3 linked regions of the Homo sapiens genome follow. The protein of the gene in region 3 interacts with the protein of the main gene of each other region in a pairwise test. Each region holds a gene or a part of one and is shown on either strand. Other genes may lie near its edges. The genes, in order: SULT4A1, CD1C and ATXN10.

Region 1 (3,751 bases), 1.8 Mb from region 3:
TTCCTAAAGCATTTTAGGTCCCACCCCATGCGGCGACTGGCATGTGCTCAAGATAGCAGCCCATCGAACGCTCTGTTCTCCAACCAACACCCTCCACTGAGAGTCCCTACTCCAATCTTCCTCAGAAGAATGTCAGAGACCTGCCCTCAGGTGTCTGGAACTCCATACAGCTACAACAGCCAAGCCTACAGCTTTTCCTGAAACTGCCCGACTGCTGGTCCGGCGTGACCTTAGAGCCAGACACCTTCTAAACCACGCTGTGATTGCCTCAAATACAGTGGCAACAAGGAAATCCCAGGGCATGTTTACAGAACAGGAAAGCTGCTACCTCCTTTCCCTAAAAACCTCAGATGGGGTACTATACAATCTCCTACCTCAGGTCTGGAAACAGACCAGCCTAGCTTTAATTCCCAGGTCAGCCACTCACCAGCTGAGTGACCTTGGACCAGCCTCTTCCCCTCTCTGAGCCTCTGTGCCTAGACTGTAAAGTGGGAATGACCACCACTAGCTCACACAGCTGTTATTGTGAAAGTGACGTCAGCTAATGCTGGGAAATGTGAATGCCCCAGGTCCTGCCTCGGTGATGGAGGCAGCCCTGAAACAAGAGAATGTACAAGCAAGGCACTCCAGGCGGGGACTGGTCCCATCCCCCACCCGGAGCCCAGGCTGGAAAGGAGGGACGTTACGTTTCCACGCTGAAAGCCCTGACGCCCATGTTATCTCCCTTCCCAGGTGAACACCAGGACTTTGCACTCATCAAAGGTTGGGCAGGATTCAGGAACAGAGAGGTTGAGTGACCTGTCCAAGGTCACACAGCCAGCCAGGTAAAGGGAGAAGCAGGGATGGGTGGCGGCCCTGGGCCCATCCTCCTGCAGCGCCGGCCAAATAGGCTCCATCTCCACGGAAGGGGCCGCTCCCGAAGGTCTCTGACCTTGGTTTCCCCAGATGAGAACCAAGCCCCTTCCCACCCCCACCCCACCCCACCCCGCCCCGCAGGGATCCGAGCATCGGGAGAGCGGTGGGCACGGCAGGGGCGGAGGCCAAGGGCGACCACCCGGCCCAGCAGAAGCCCCGGGCGCGGGCGCGGCGTCTACGCGGCCGCGCTGCAGGGCTGGGGCATGGCGTGGCGGGCGCGGTCGGCGCGGGGCTCACCGGACTTGGGGTAGGTGACGATCCACACGTCGCTGGGCCGCACCGGGAAGTTGGCGATCTCCTCCATCTTCCCGCGGCAGAAGGGCGGCAGCCGCACGCCATGGAACTCGAAGTACTTGCTCTCGAACTCCCCCGGGGTGCTGGGGGTCTCGGCCTCGCTCTCCGCCATGCCGCCGCCGTCGCCGTCGCCGCCGCCGCCTCCCGGCTCGCAGCCCGCACGCGCCCGCGCCCGCGCCCGCGCCCGCGCCCCGCACACGCTCGCGCCCCACCGGCGCGCGGCGGCAGCTCCGCAGGCGTGACGTCATGGCGCCGCCGACGCGCGGCGGAGGCTCCGCGGGTATGACGTCATGGCGCCGCCCGGCACGCGGCCGCGGCGCTGCACGGGCGTGACGTCATGGCGCCGCGGAGCCGCGTCCTCCCCGCCCCGCCCCCGGCCGGGGTCACCCACCCGCTGCCGGGGCTGACAGAGACCCTGGCCCGCGGTCTGCAGCCTCCTCAGTCGTGCGTGCGTTCATTCCGCTCATAGCTTCTGTCACTCAGCAAGCGCTCAACACAGACGCATGAGATACCCTGGCTGGAAGGCCCTGAAAGGTAGTCGTCCATTCAACACGTGCTTAGCGCGCTGCTGATCTGTGCCAGGCACTGGGCCAGGGCCCCGACACGCGTCAGGGTAGAAGCAAGCAGAAGCCTGGCCCTGTTGGAGCTTACATTGGTAAATAACCAAGATAATTTCAGGTAAATATTAGGTCCTATTAAAAATATGCGTCTTCGCCAGGCGCGGTGGATCACGCCTGTAATCTCAGCACTTTGAGAGGTCGAGCACGGGCGGATCTCCTGAGGTCAAGAGTTCGAGACCAACCTGGGTAAATGGTGAAACCGCATCTCTACAAACATACAAAAAAAAAAATTAGCAGTGAGCTGTGAGCTTGCACCACTGCACTCCAGTCTGGGCAACAGGACGAGATCTTCTAACAACAACAAAAAAAAAGTATGGGCCACCTAGTCCAGCCAAAAAAACAAAGTGCTTTTTTTTTGCTTTTTTTTTTTTTTTTTTTTTTTTGAGATGGAGTCTCGCTGTGTCGCCCAGGCTGGAGTGCAGGGGCGCGATCTCAGCTCACTGCAAGCTCCACCTCCCGGGTTTACGCCATTCTCCTGGCTCAGCCTCCCGAGTAGCTGGGACTACAGGCACATGCCACCATGCCTGGCTAATTTTTTGTATTTTTTGTTTGTTTGTTTTAGTAGAGACGGGGTTTCATCGTGTTAGCCAGGATGGTCTCAATCTCCTGACCTCGTGATCTGCCCACCTTGGCCTCCCAAAGTGCTGGGATTACAGGTGTGAACCACCTCGCCCAGCCAAAAAGTGCTTCTTAATATCCCATGAGTAGGGGAGGGGAGTGTTGGATTGCAAATTCCAGGACCCCAGATCTATGGAGAAAAATTACAAAAATATACATTTAGTAAGGCACTTCTTGTGCAAACTATAATTTGAGAGCAACCGAGTTCTAGAGATCTCAGTGCAACCCCTTGCCAGTCATGCACTCAACAGACATATATGAAGCACCTACTAACATGCCTGGGGAAGCACAAAGATGAAAACAACACAGCCTGCTCTCATTCTCTGCAGCCGAGCATCATCAGCTGTGTAAAGGAAAAGAATGATTCCTACCTCTAAGTAGTGTAGCCAGGAAGATGGAAGGAGTTTACACCAACAAGAATCTGGAGCAGAGTGGCTGGACGGGACCTATTCCTACTCTCTCCTTCTTACTGTAGAGTGAGACACGTGCATTCTGACACCAAAGACATACACATGGGCTGAGAAGCGCAGGCCATGTGTACATAGCAGACAGAGAGAGGAAACAGCAATTAATCCTGACTTGGGAAGCTTGTAGATGTCTTTCCAAAAAAGAAAGAGGACATTCCGAGCACCCAGCCTTTATTCAGAATAATTAGGCCAATGGCAAAAGGGCATCTAGCCAAAAGCTAGAGGGATTGAGTGAATGAATGAATATCCTGATGTTTCAGGTGAGGGTTCTCACTGTGGGAGAAGGAAAATGTAAGTGGGGAATGCGAGAAGGCAGGGAAGAACTCTATGGTATTGGATTGGAATTGGAGGTATTGACATGAGTTTATGATATTTTAAAATTCCTATTTCTTATATTTGCTGGAAAAGCCTTTAGGCAGTGATATCTCAATAATACTAGGCATACCCACTGCCCAGATCTTTGCTAAATACTTCCCTCACCAAATGAACCTGGGGTTTCTTGGAGAAAAAGCCAACTCCAGGGCAAGGAAAGTACAAGATGAGCCTAAAATGTCTTGTTGAGTCTTGAACTCCTGCAAGTTCAAAAATGTTGGGAATAGGTCAGAAGGACACAGGGTATAACATGAAAGTATTATCATAGGTCAAATCGGAAACAATTTGAGCATGTTAGACAAAAATGGGAAAAAACCCACGTACCCAACAGTAGAATAGATAAATTGCGATATATTCATACAATGGAATACAGTAATTTTTTTAAAAAAGGAATGTAACTGAGAAGAATGTCACAGTCAAAATGATGAACAAACTAAGTCAAGCACAAAAAATGGTATGTCATAT
Region 2 (3,751 bases), on a different chromosome or scaffold from region 3:
TGAACTTACATTTCGAGTAATCTTGACTTGCATGGTCTTGAATCTCCCGAGTTAATCCAAAGAGGTAGAAACGAAATAACAACTCTAGGTCTGACAACTCTTCATTGCTGAAGTTGCCCTTGGACCAGTTATGCAGGAAAATTATTGTGCCTGATTCACTGTCCCAGCCATGAGTCTGCAACTCGTCCAGCCATCCTGAGCCCTGACCTCGTGCCCAGGATTGGTTGACAAATGAGAAGATCTGGATGACATGGAAGGAGACGTGTTCCTGGGATGCTTTTGGTGGAAGAAGGGCAAGTAGTGTAAGGAAAAAAAAAAAAAGAGAGGCAAGGAAAATGGAGAGAAAATGGAAGGTGAACCAGTTACCACAGAGAAACATTAATGACTACTTTAGCTATACCATTTTCCTTACACAGAGCCCCATGCTCTGCCACCATCCTCTAAAAGAGTAAACTGGACCTGGAGAGAGGTATGCTCAAATGGCAACCATTCTGGCTTCTTCATTGATCCATCTTGGGAAAGCCCATCATGCTCAACCCAGATACATGTAACCTTGCAGCTGACAGAGATGTTCATACTATCTGCATTGTCACCACCGGGGAGGAGAAGAACTAGCAGCGGAAACTACAGAAACAGCATGTCATTTGCAGTTGTTTCCTTCTCTCAGAAAAGCCATTTGCTGATCTCTGTTCTTAGCAAACTTATCCCTCTACATCTATATTCTGACTTCCTTCTACCAACAGACAATCTTCCCCATCAGCCACTGACAGCAACTAAGACAATCTGCTTCCCTTAACCTTAGGCCTCCTACTCAATCTCTCATTTCCCCATCTGCTCTGAACTAAAGTTACTCTCTTCCCTTAGGATTTTAGCTGCTCTCCCACTAAGCTCCATCTTATCTACTTCCCTTCCTCAACTGCCTTAGACAAAGTGGTGCGTGGCATTGAAAGGTTGCTTCATCCCTCTGGACCTTGCGTGTCATTTGTAACATAAAAAGGAGAAACCACATCATTTTCCTGGGCCCTGATTGTTTTAACGGAAAATGGAGAGGAAATGGAAATTGAACCAGTTACCACAGAGAAACATTAATGACTACTTTAGCTATAACATTTTCCTTACACAGAGCCCATGCTCTGCCACCATCCTCCAAAAGAGTAAACTGGACCTGGAGACAGGTATGCTCAGATGGCAAGCATTCTGGCATCTCTATTGATCCATCTCGGGAAAGCCCAGCACACTCTACCCAGATACATGTAACCTTGCAGCTGACAGCGATGTTCTTACCGTCTGCATTGTCACCACCTGGGAGAAGAAGAGCTAGCAGCAGAAACTGCAGAAACAGCATGTCATTTGCAGATGTTTCTTTCTCTCAGAAAAGCTGTTTGCTGATCTCTGTTCTTAGCAAACTTATCCCTCTGTACCTATATTCTGACTTCCTTCTACCAACAATCTTCCCCATCAGCCGCTGACAGCAACTAAGAAGATCTGCTTCCCTCAACCTTGGTCCTCCTACTCAATCTCTCATTTCCCCACCTGCTCTGAACTAAAGTTATTCTCTTCTCTCAGGATTCCAGCTGCTCTGCCACTAAGCTCCATTATATCTACTTCCCTTCCTCAACTGCCTTAGACAAAGTGGTGTATGGCATTGAAAGAAAGGTCATTTTGTCCCTCTGGATTTTGCATGTCATTTGTAAGATAAAAAGGAGAAACCATGTCATTTTTTCAGTTCCTGCTTGTTTTAATAGATCACAGTTCTTCCAGTTTCTCCACTTAACTTTGCCTCCACTCTCCATAGTGTCCCCTCTTCTCATCACTCCATTCTTTCTTTCCCCCTTTTGAATGTCCTCAAAGTTTTCTCTTTCCAATTTCACCTCTTTTCACCCATCTTTCTTATTTCCTCATTCTCACTGATTCTTTTATAAATTGGAGACGTTGCTTTTTACATCTTCCAAGATTTCCCTGCACAATTATATAAACTACAGTCCACTCTACATTATCCTTAGAGATTAAATTGCAGCCATTCAGAATGCATAGGACCATAACAAATATAAAGAAGCCCTTCTACTGCATTTAATCTGTATAGTCATTCACTAAAAAATTACATAGTACATGGTTGATACCAGTGTCTTACTAGGCATATAAACACACAGAGGTTAACAATGTAATCTCTTCTATCAAAGAGTTTTAAACTGCAGATGTTTAAACAAAAAATTAAAATGCATTGTGATTTTAATTTCAATGTATAGAATCCCAGATACAAATCTACTTAGAACTATATTCTCTAGAGCAGCATTTTGACTGACTAACCCCCTGGGAAGTTCATAATTTGAAGTCCTGGAAGAACAGCATGCATCTCAACTAAATACTGAAAATTCTGTACAGTGTGGAATGGTATACGATTGTGATAGTCAGAACATGCAGCTTTTCAAGAGGACTCATACATGGGGAGACCACAAAAATCCAAATTTAAGTTGTTTTGTGATCTGACCAAAACACATTGTATAAAAAGGGCAGCATTTGTCAATGTTTGATTTAAGTAGTTTATATGAAGTATTCAGTGACTTATCAGTGACCCTGGCTGGTTAATATGTGTAAATACATGAACACAGTTTTTTTGAGATCCAGGAAATACATTTATTATTATAGTGTTTCTTAAATCATATTAATTATTCACTGAATGCATTGGAGCAGTCACTTAAAATCTGGGCATGAATTTGTGCTAGGCACAATGACTCATGCCTGTAATCCCAGCACTTTGGGAGACCAAGGTGGGAAGATCACTTGAGCCCAGGAGTTTGAGACCAGCCTGGGCAACAAAGTTAGACCTCATCTCGATAAAAAAATTAAAAAGTTGGCCAAATGTGGTGGCACATGCCTGTAGTCCCAGCTAAATGGGAGGCAGAGGCAGGAAGATCTTTTGAGCCCTGAAAGTCAGGGCTGTAGTGAGCCATGTTCATGTCACTGTACTCCAGCCTGGGTAACAGAGCAAGACCGTGCCTTAAAAAGGAAAATCCCATTTGTAACATTGTTTCTGTTTTAAATTTATATTTATTCTATGTATTTACTGTGTACAACATGATACTTTGATATATACACTATTTCTTAGGTTTGTCAACGTTAATAGTGAGGCCAGAAGTCATTCTCAATGAGCTCTTCCTATCATGGCCACAGATATGTGGCAATTTCTATGAACTATAATATCTTTAAGAGCAATACCCAGTTCAAATCCTACCCAAATCATTCATAAGCACTAGGTGTTATCTTTGCTCATCTTGTGCTGTTAATGGCAAATACTTGGTTTGTGGTTTTAGAAAACAATAGTAGATACCACATTATGTGTTTATTCACATTTTTTTCCATGTTCCTACAGGAAAGATGCAACTGTCCTATTTCCTAATAGTTGGGTTAAGGTCATGGACTGAGTTCTGGGCAATGGAATGTGTGGTGTTGGAAGCATTAGCCAGCTCCAGTCCTGACCACTGAAAATATCACATCTGATCATCTTACCCTGTGGTACCAACTTGGCAGTCAAATTTCTAAATGGCAAGACTATGAGATGGAGAAGAGCAGCCTGATCTACATGCAGTTTAACTGCATGAGAAATAAACTTCATTGTGTTAAGCCTCCAAGTTCTAAAGTTTATTTATAACTGCAACATAACCTAGCTATATTGGATAATATTATAAAACCCAGTAAGTATCATCCTTTTTGCCCTCTTGAATTCAGAAGCAAACAAGTTGAAAATAACATG
Region 3 (3,751 bases):
AGAAAACAGCAGACAAAAAGCAAAAACAGTGAGGAAAGTAATTAAGAGATTCTTCTCTTTTGGTGGAATACATTATTTCTCTAGGATTCCATTTTATATTTGAAGAATCATAGACATAATGTAGTTGGTGGTCCTTCTGAGCTCTTCCATGCTACAAAACAAACTTCTGTCAGTGGTAGCTTGAGTAATAGAAGTGTCATGCAGTGGGAAGAGCAGTGGCTTTGGAACCATGGAGACCTGGATGTGAATCCTGGTTTAGTTTGTGAGGCTTCTTGTTTCTTTCCTTGAAAACGGGATGATGGTAGCCACTTTGACAGATTATTTTGAGGATCTGTAATATTATATGTGTAGCATAGTGGTTTATGCATAGTAAATGCCATTTATTTAGGACCTGTTATTAAAATATAACAAGGTTGTAAGTGACCAAGAATCCATTTGTGTTGAATCTCCTGTCTTATCAGAAACAAAAATTGCAGCTATTTCAGGAAGACAGTTCTAATTTTGGGGTTTCCGGAGAAGGGGATCTCAGGATCTCATTACAATTTTAGCAGCCCCCAAGTGAAAAGAAATTCTTACATCCCATTGTGGGAATTTTAAATATGTCCACAAATTCTTTGATACTCTGACCTTCTCAAGAGGAGGAGGTTAATTCTTTTCTCCTTGAGTGTGGGCTGAACTTAGTGACTTGCTCCTGAAGAGTAGAATATGGTAGAAGTGACAGTGTGCGACTTCTCAGACTAGGTCATAAAAAGCATCGTAGTTTCCTCTTTGCTAGCTCTTTCTTGAATCACCCACTCTGACAAAGCCAGCTGCCATGTCATGAGGACACTCAAGCATCCATATGCAGAGAGCTGTGTGGTGAGGAGCTGAGGCCTCCTTTGAACAGCCATGTGATGAACTACCTTGGAAGCAGGTCCTCTGAGCTCCAGTCACATCCTCAGCCACGTGTGCAACCTCATGAGACACCCTAAGCCTCTCAGATCTGTGTGAGATCATAAATGTTATTGTTTTAAAATGCTAAATTTTGGGCTAATTTGCTATGTAGCAATACATCATTAATACACCAGTCTTAATTCTCCATGCTGTGTATTAAATGCATTCTGTAACCCACTTCTTAAACAGTGTCTTGGTCACTAAAATAATTTAAACATATTGCTTATGGTCATATAATATCAGTATTGAGATATTCCTCAGCTGTTTCTTCTCTGTGTAAGATAATTCTTTTTTCTCACATTTGTTTTATACTTTTTGTTTAATGTAGATATCACCGTATTTCACATTTGTTTAACAAGTGATTTATCTTGCTGTGAGTCTTTGCAAGTCATGTTAAATTCTTTCTGAACAAGTAAGACAAACATTTAAAATTCTATTTTAGTTGCTCCTTTAATTATTTTTCTTTTTTTTTTCCGAGACAGGGCCTCACTTTGTCATCCAGGTTGGAGTGCATTTTTTCTAGAGAAGGGGGTCTCACTATGTTGCCCAGGCTGGTCTCGAACTCCTGGCCTCAAGTGATCCTCCTGCCTCGGCCTCCCAAAGTGTTGGGATTACAGGCATGAGCCACCGTACCTGGCTAGTTGCCTTTATGATGCATCCATGAGGCATCTCCAGACCCCACAAAGTGTAGAGCCAGGTGAGATGGGTTGTCATACTCCATCTGTGCTGTTCATTAAGTAGCCACTAGCTACATGTAGCTACTTAATTAATTGAAAATAAGTAAAATTAATGTTTCATTTCCTTAGTTGCATTAGCCATATTTTTTAATTTGTTTTTTTTTTTTTGAGACAGTTTCACTCTTGTTGCCCAGGTTGGAGTGCAGTGGTGTGATCTTGGCTCACTGCAACCTTCGCCTCCCGGGTTCAAGCGATTCACCTGCCTCAGCTTCCCGAGTAGTTGGAATTACAGGCATACGCCACCACACCTGGCTAATTTTGTATTTTTAATAGAGACGGGGTTTCTCCACGTTGGTCAGGTTGGTCTTGAACTCCCGACCTCAGGTGATCCGCCTGCCTTGGCCTCCCAAAGTGCTGGGATTACAGGCATGAGCCACCGTGCCCTGCCCTTTATTACTATTTTTTTAGAGACAGGGTCTCACTCTGTTGCCCAAGCTGGAGTGCAGTGGCACGATCATAGTTCACTGCATCCTCGACTTCCTGGGCTCAAGCAATCCTCCTGCCTCCTTCCCCAGTAGCTGGGACTACAGGTGTACACCACCATGCCCAGATAATTTTTTTGTTTATTTTTTGTAGAGATGGGGTCTCGCCATGTTGCCCAGGCTGGCATTAGCCATATTTTAAGTGCTCATTGGCCACATGTGATGTGACAGCACAGATATAGAATATTTCCATCATCACAGAAAGTTCTGGAAATAGTGCTCTTCTGTAGTAAGTTTTCTATAGGGGAGATTGTATTTTGACTCTTGAGTATTCTTGAAATAATGGAACATTTGGATGCTGCTTTCTATAAATTCATCTCATACTTAAACTGATACCTCATTGGTCTTCCACCTGATGAGCTTCTTGAATGAAGTGGGCACATCACATTCACTGTATGCCTGGCATCTAGCATAGAGTTGATAGTGGCAGATGCTTATCAGTTTCTTGTGGAGTTGCTGCTATTTCTATAACTTATTACTCATTGCACTTGCTTGGTCTTTTTCTTAGTCGTGTAGACAGTAATTTTTTTTTTCAGCTTCTATCAGTATAGCTCATTTTTTCTCTTCAATCTGCTTAGACAAAATGAGGTTTTCGTTGGTGTTTAATTTAAAAATTAAAAAAAAATTCAGGCCAAAAGGTCTTAAAAAAAAAAAAAAGAAAAGGCAAGTCCTGGACTTAGAGAAGTATTTAAAATATATATGATAAAGAAGTTGTTTCAGAATATATGAAGTACTCCTACCTACAACTCAATAAAAAAGACTCCTACAACTCAATTTAAAAATTGGGCAAAATCTGTGCTTTACAAAGAAAAATAAAGGCCAATAAGCGTATGATAAAGTGCTCCAAATCACTAGTTATTAGGGAAATGCAGTTAAAACTTCAGTGAGAGACTACTGCATGCCGTTTAGGATGGCTATTATCCAAAAAATGGAAAAGAACAAGTATCGTTGAGGATGTGGGGAAATGGGAACCCTTGTGTGTTGCTAGTGGACATGTAAAGTGGTGCTGCTACTATGGAAAATAATTTGGTGGGTCCTCAAAAAGCTAAACATGGAATATGACCAAGCAGTTTTACTCTTAGGTATGTGCCCGAAGAAAATGAAAAAGGACAAATTCTGTATGATTCTGCTTTTATGAAGTACCTAGAACAGACAAACTTGTAGAGACAGAAAGTAGATTAGAGGTTACTAGGATTTGGAGAGAGGGGAAATTGGGAGTTACTGCTTCATGTTTACAGAGTTTCTATTTGGGTGTTAAAAAAAATTTTGGAAGTAGAGGTGATAGTTGTACAACATTGTGAATATAATTAAAGCCATTGAACTGTAGACTTAAAATGAACAACATGGCAAATTTTATGTTATATATATGTATTTTACCACAGTTAAAAAAATTAATAATACAATGTACCAAAATCCATTTAATTGTACGCTTTAAGTGGGTGACTTTAGTGTGCCACGTGAACCCTATCTCAATAGTGCTGTTATAAACAAATCCATAGTAAGGTGCCTCTGCATCCCTATTAGAATGGCTATAATGAAAATGAGTGACACTGAATTTTGGTGGGCATGTGAAGCTATATATTTATGATTTTTAAAAAG

The links.
Region 1: the proteins of ATXN10 (region 3) and SULT4A1 interact in binary tests that used the Homo sapiens proteins (3 or more experiments, as listed by UniProt).
Region 2: the proteins of ATXN10 (region 3) and CD1C interact in binary tests that used the Homo sapiens proteins (3 or more experiments, as listed by UniProt).

Annotation. Positions count from the first base shown.
Region 1 is NC_000022.11:43,861,062-43,864,812, forward strand, and holds the start of SULT4A1 (sulfotransferase 4A1), read right to left. Parts: upstream 1,453-3,751; 5' UTR 1,322-1,452; coding exon 1,153-1,321; intron 1-1,152. UniProt on the Homo sapiens protein: Atypical sulfotransferase family member with very low affinity for 3'-phospho-5'-adenylyl sulfate (PAPS) and very low catalytic activity towards L-triiodothyronine, thyroxine, estrone, p-nitrophenol, 2-naphthylamine, and 2-beta-naphthol.
Region 2 is NC_000001.11:158,287,659-158,291,409, reverse strand, and holds the start of CD1C (T-cell surface glycoprotein CD1c precursor), read right to left. Parts: upstream 1,488-3,751; 5' UTR 1,346-1,487; coding exon 1,285-1,345; intron 277-1,284; coding exon 10-276; intron 1-9. UniProt on the Homo sapiens protein: Antigen-presenting protein that binds self and non-self lipid and glycolipid antigens and presents them to T-cell receptors on natural killer T-cells.
Region 3 is NC_000022.11:45,674,721-45,678,471, forward strand, and holds part of ATXN10 (ataxin-10), read left to right. Parts: intron 1-3,751. UniProt on the Homo sapiens protein: May play a role in the regulation of cytokinesis. May play a role in signaling by stimulating protein glycosylation. Induces neuritogenesis by activating the Ras-MAP kinase pathway and is necessary for the survival of cerebellar neurons.